2 linked regions of the Homo sapiens genome follow. The protein of the gene in region 1 purifies or fractionates together with the protein of each later gene. This does not show direct contact. Each region holds a gene or a part of one and is shown on either strand. Other genes may lie near its edges.

Region 1 (3,500 bases):
AGATGAAGTCTTGCTCTTGTTCCCCAGGCTGGAGTGCAATGGCATGATCTCGGCTCACTGCAGCCTCCACCTGCCGGGTTCAAGCAATTCTCCTGCCTCAGCCTCCCGAGTAGCTGGGATTACAGGCGCCTGCTACCACGCCTGGCTAATTTTTGCATTTTTAGTAGAGATGGGGTTTCACCACATTGGACAGGCTGGTCTCGAGCTGCTGACCTCATGTGATCTACCCGCCTCGGCCTCCCAAAGTGCTGGGATTACAGGCGTGAGCCACTGCACCTGGCCAGATTGTATATATTTTTGGCATAAGGAAAACAGTATTAACACAATTCAATTAAGTTTAGCATTCCTTTGATGAGGATACATTTTTTCCCAAACATTATGTATGGTAGGCACTAGTATTCGATGCAGTTGTGGTAGTTGCTTTCTGGGAAGCAATGAGACTTACTCTTGGCATCTATGGGATGATATGTAAGAAAATAAATTTTAATTTAATAAATGAAACAATAAATGGATAAAATGCAGACACAGCACAAAAAGGGACTAATTAACTCTCTTGGCAGGAGGTGTTCAAGGAGTGCTTCACATTCCCAAGAAAGGTAACATCTGTGGTGGGTATTAAAGGGAGGCTATGATATCCTTTGCATTGGGTATACAAAAGATGCAGGAAAGGGACTTTCAGACAGAAGAAAAAGCATATGAAAAGATATGGAACAAGGAACAGGACTGACAGTTTGGTGCTATTTGTGTCACCAAGAACAAAGTGGAAAATGACAACAGATGAGGCAAAATCAGCAAAATCTCATATGCCAGGGTAAAGAGCCTAGGCTTATTCTAGAGGCAAATGGGAAACACTGAAGGATGTTAAGCAGAAATATGAAATGATCTAATTTGCTCCTCAGAATAATCATTCTGGTAACAGTGAAGAAAATGGATTGGGAGAGGAAATGGCAAATGTGTAAGTTCACTTTTGACTTTACAAATTCGTGCCTAGAATAGTGCTTGGCAAATAGCGGGCACTTAGTATTTGTTGAGTGAAAAAACAAAAAGTTGTTATATGAATCAAAAAAAGTCGATAAGTCTGAAGAAAAACCACACAGAAATAGTGCCTATTTTTTTTTGTTGCTACTGCTTGATTCATCTGCTGGCTTGTTTGTTATCTTACCATAAGATTTTCATGAACAAATCAGTAAGTAAAATAACCGAATAAAAAAAACAGTCAAAGGATTTGAATAGCAGGCTTACAAAAGAGGAAGTCTGAAGGGTAACTAGAAATATGAAAACATGCTCAATTTCACTAGCAACAACTAGATCATTTAAATCCCATGAGATGGAAGAATATTTAAGAGTTTGCACAAAACCCAGTCTTCACCAGAATGTTGAATTGGAATTCTCACATGCTGCTGGTGAGAGTGTAAGTTGGTGAAATCATTATGGAAAGTGGTTTGGCTGTCAGTAGTCATTAAGTTAGAAGATGCTTATCTCTTTTGACTCAGCATTTCCACTCAGATATAAACCCTAGAGAAATGCTTGTACCTGTACAGAGACATGTTCAGCAATGTTGATCACAGCATTGTTGATTAAACAAAAAACTTTGAAATAACATAAATGTCTATCTGCAGGAGAATGGATAAATTGTGATATATTTGTACACCACATACTATTCAGCAATGAAAATGAACAAATTAGAGCTATGTAAATAAAACATGAAAAAAGTTTACAAAGTGATATATATATATATATATATATATAGCATTATGTTACATAAAGTTAATTATGCAAAATAATATTACATATATGTAATAAAAGATCAAAATTCCAATTTAAGAGGCTAGTTATCTCTGAGAAGGGAAAGCAGGAGGGAAATGGGATTAGGGGAGGTTACACAGGAAGCTTCACCCTTTCTTTAAAAGAAAAAAAGGTCATAAACAGATATAGAAAAATAAAAATTTTATAAAGCTAGATAATGGTCAAAAAAGTATTTGTTATTTTTGTTTTTATATATTTGAAATGTTTTCAGTGAAAAATCCTTTGAGCTTAGAGAATTACAAAATTATCCTTATTCTCAAAGTAAAATATTTTCCTAGCATCTAAATAATTTTAAGAGTTTTTTATTTTGCAGATTTGACTGATGAATTAGCTCAGAAGTTATTTGATGTTTCAGAAATAACTTCAGCAGCAATGGTTCATTCGTTGCCTACAGCAGTTCCAGAATCTCCTAGAATTCATCCTACAAGAACACCCAAAACACCTCGAACACCTAGGTTACAAGATCCTAACAAAACACCAAGATTTTATCCTGTTGTTAAAGAACCAAAAGCCATTGATGTAAAGGTATACAAAACAACCAGGAATATAAGGCTTGCATTTTGTATCCTTTAACATTACAGAATGAAACGTTTTAGTTTCTATCACATTGAAAAATGTGTGTTATAACTTGTAATATTTCACTTAAAAATCATACTTTACCATAGTGATATTTTCTCTGGTTAGGAAATTTTTCGGTTGGGCACGGTGGTTTATGCCTGTAATCCAACACTTTGGGAGACCGAGGCAGGTGGATCGCTTGTGCCCAGGAGTTGGAGACGAGCCTGGGCAATGCAGTGGGACCCCATCTCTAAAAAAATACAAAAATTAGATGGGCGTGGTGGCGTGTGCCTGTAGTCCCAGCTACTTGGGAGGCTGAGGTGGCAGGATTGCTTGAGCCTGTAGGGGTCAGGGCTGCAGTGAGCCATGATCATGCCACTGCACTCCAGCCTTGGCAACAGAGTAAGACCCCATTTAAAAATAAACAAACAAACAAAAACCTTTTTTACAATTGGATAGTGTAATTAAAGACGAACAGAAAGTATAATGAAGAATCACACTAAGCTGCACTTCATTTCATCTTTGTGTCACAAACCTACCAAAGGACTTTATTTATTAAGTTTTGTAACTTGTGTGTGAGATTTTTGAGTTTTGTGACTTCATATGATTTCACAATGTGTTATCTACAGTATGAAAATGTTTGAGTTCATTTATAGTCAGAGGGTTTTAATTTACTTGTGAAGTTCACACTATTGAAACTAATTGCAATGCTTGACTTTATTTTCTTTAGAGTCCAAGAAAGAGAAAAACAAGGCATAGCACAAATCCCCCTCTAGAGTGTCATGTTGGTTGGGTAATGGATTCCAGAGACCGTGGGCCAGGAACATCCTCTGTCAGGTACTATATTTCTCAAACATTACTTTTTTGTTCGTGATTTGAAGTTTTTTGAAAACAGTTACTAATTGGATATTTCAAAATATTTAAAAATTAATATGTTAGCAAATTATAGAGCAATGAAAATGGTACAAAGAAGCCAAAGAAGAGATAAGTTTTACAAGTATGTTAAGGAAATAATCCAGTTGGACAGTTTTTTTTTCCCATTTAAATTATTTTTCACAAATGTGAACTCTTAGATTTATAAGCTATGTAGGTCTATGAAAGTTATTATCTTTGGAAAGTTCCCAGAGTCTTAGTGG
Region 2 (2,814 bases), on another chromosome or scaffold:
GGGCCCTCGGGACTGAGGGTGGGCAGGGCACCCCATCCCCCAGCATCCCCTCCCCCTTCCTCCTCTGCTCCACCTCAGATCTGACTGGGCTCAGGACTGCGGGAGGGACTGACACCCCTCAGGTGATGGCAACTCCCGGCCCTTGAGGGCGTCACCTGGTCTTGGGGGGAGGTCTGCAGGGAGCACCAGGGTCCTTTGGGGAGAGGTGGGGCTGTGGGGCTTGGGGAGCACTGGGTGGACATTGCAGGGGAGGGGCGATCGTGGGTGCCCAGCCCGACCCTTCCTGCAGCCTCTCCCCTCGCCAACTCCTTGGCTTCCCGTGTGCGGAGGTGTCCGGCCTGAGCACGGAGCGTGTCCGGGAGCTGGCTGTGGCCTTGGCACAGAAGAATGTCAAGCTCTCAACAGAGCAGGTCAGTCTCAGTTGGGCTGAGGCAGGTGGGCACAGCTGGGGCTGAGGAATTCACAGGCAGCTCTGCAGTGCCCACCTTGCCACCACGGTCCCCTCTGTCCCTGCTGCCATCTCTCCCCGGCCAGTTCTTCCCAGAGTTCCTCTGGCCACCCAAGCTGACCACTGGGGTGCCTGTCCACGTCAGGGGCTGGCTCCCCAGGAGCAAGTCTGATATGACGCTGTGTGCTGGGCCCCCTCCTGGAGCGCCGTGGGCAGCCCTCCAGGCTCTGCCCCAAGGGTGAATCTTTTTCGGGGGAGTGGGTGAGATCTGGGGAAGGGGAGCGGAGCCAGGCACGGGAGCCCCCATCCCCCAGGGCAGCGCTGCAGGCGGCCAGAGATCCACTTCCACAGATTCTCGTGGCCAGGGCAGGGGTGTGTTGTGGTGGGCAGACTGGCCAGGCGACCCTGGCCCACCATGTGAGTGGCGGCTCGAAACGCTCTGTGCTGGACTCCCTGCCCCTGCAGCTGCGCTGTCTGGCTCACCGGCTCTCTGAGCCCCCCGAGGACCTGGACGCCCTCCCATTGGACCTGCTGCTATTCCTCAAGTAGGCCCTGCCCCCTGAACCCACCCCCCCGGCTTTTGCCGCCAGCCCTCAGCCCCCAACCCCCTGCCCCTTGCCTCGGATCCCAGGCCACAGCAGAGATGTGGAGGCCGGCCGGGCTGCCTCTCAGGGTGGGGACGGGTGTGATCAGTGCGGCCTGTCCCCAGCACCCTCTCTTCACAGCCCAGATGCGTTCTCGGGGCCCCAGGCCTGCACCCGTTTCTTCTCCCGCATCACGAAGGCCAATGTGGACCTGCTCCCGAGGGGGGCTCCCGAGCGACAGCGGCTGCTGCCTGCGGCTCTGGCCTGCTGGGTAGGGGCTGGGGCCAGCGCGGGGCGGAGAGGGCTCGGCAGTTCCAAAAGCGCTGAGGCCAGCCTCTCTGCAGGGTGTGCGGGGGTCTCTGCTGAGCGAGGCTGATGTGCGGGCTCTGGGAGGCCTGGCTTGCGACCTGCCTGGGCGCTTTGTGGCCGAGTCGGCCGAAGTGCTGCTACCCCGGCTGGTGAGCTGCCCGGGACCCCTGGACCAGGACCAGCAGGAGGCAGCCAGGGCGGCTCTGCAGGGCGGGGGACCCCCCTACGGGTAAGTGAAGGTGTCTGGAACCTCGAAGGCTCACCTGGCGGCGTGGTATCAGCAGCGTGAGGACACTTGCGGCCATGCCTCAAGGCCCAGGGTCAGTCACCCCCGCCACCACCCCTGCCAATGCCCCCAGCGTCCCCTCCACAGCCAGGGGGTACGGCCTGGCCTCTTCCCTCTCTGGGGCTGCACGTGGGGGGTCCCTGAGCTGTGTCCCGTGTCTGCACAGCCCCCCGTCGACATGGTCTGTCTCCACGATGGACGCTCTGCGGGGCCTGCTGCCCGTGCTGGGCCAGCCCATCATCCGCAGCATCCCGCAGGTGAGACCCCAATCCCCAGCCCGTGGGGATGCCCGGCCACCCGAGGCTCAGCCCAGGTCCTGCTCGTCCTCAGGGCATCGTGGCCGCGTGGCGGCAACGCTCCTCTCGGGACCCATCCTGGCGGCAGCCTGAACGGACCATCCTCCGGCCGCGGTTCCGGCGGGAAGTGGAGAGTGAGTGCCGTGCCCTGCGCAGTCTGGCACCAGGCTGGGCAGCACCCCTGGGGGTGGGCATCACTTTAGGGTCTCACCTGCCCCTCCCTGGCTCTGCAGCACATCCCATTATAATCACAGAGAGTGGACAGAATCCCTGTTTGCCAGTGGGTAAACTGAGGCACAGGGAGGGTCACAAATGGCCCGAGGTCTCATCTCACAGGAGGTGTGGGAGGAAGAAGGGGTCAAACGAACTCCGGCCCTGACCCCTGACCCCTGTGCCCTGCAGAGACAGCCTGTCCTTCAGGCAAGAAGGCCCGCGAGATAGACGAGAGCCTCATCTTCTACAAGAAGTGGGAGCTGGAAGCCTGCGTGGATGCGGCCCTGCTGGCCACCCAGATGGACCGCGTGAACGCCATCCCCTTCACCTACGAGCAGCTGGACGTCCTAAAGCATAAACTGGATGAGGTAGTTCATGACTCAAGTTCCCACCGGCCTGCTGTGTCCAAGCCATCCCCAGCCCCTCTGGGAGTGACATGGGCCCTCCTGGTCTCTTGGCCTGCAGCTCTACCCACAAGGTTACCCCGAGTCTGTGATCCAGCACCTGGGCTACCTCTTCCTCAAGATGAGCCCTGAGGACATTCGCAAGTGGAATGTGACGTCCCTGGAGACCCTGAAGGCTTTGCTTGAAGTCAACAAAGGGCACGAAATGAGTCCTCAGGTGACCGTCCGGCTCGGGGGTCATGTGGCATGAGATTGGGAAGGGCTGAGGGGCAGA

What was found.
Region 2: the proteins of LARP1B (region 1) and MSLN purify together in Homo sapiens (affinity purification with mass spectrometry; one large-scale study listed by BioGRID and IntAct). This does not show direct contact.

The regions. Positions count from the first base shown.
Region 1 is NC_000004.12:128,176,312-128,179,811, forward strand, and holds part of LARP1B (la-related protein 1B), read left to right. Parts: intron 1-560; coding exon 561-596; coding exon of another isoform or gene 597-608; intron 609-899; coding exon of another isoform or gene 900-955; intron 956-2,119; coding exon 2,120-2,331; intron 2,332-3,094; coding exon 3,095-3,201; intron 3,202-3,500.
Region 2 is NC_000016.10:763,734-766,547, forward strand, and holds part of MSLN (mesothelin isoform 1 preproprotein), read left to right. Parts: intron 1-289; coding exon 290-410; intron 411-913; coding exon 914-993; intron 994-1,173; coding exon 1,174-1,303; intron 1,304-1,376; coding exon 1,377-1,570; intron 1,571-1,793; coding exon 1,794-1,884; intron 1,885-1,957; coding exon 1,958-2,057; intron 2,058-2,325; coding exon 2,326-2,504; intron 2,505-2,601; coding exon 2,602-2,757; intron 2,758-2,814. UniProt on the Homo sapiens protein: Membrane-anchored forms may play a role in cellular adhesion. Megakaryocyte-potentiating factor (MPF) potentiates megakaryocyte colony formation in vitro.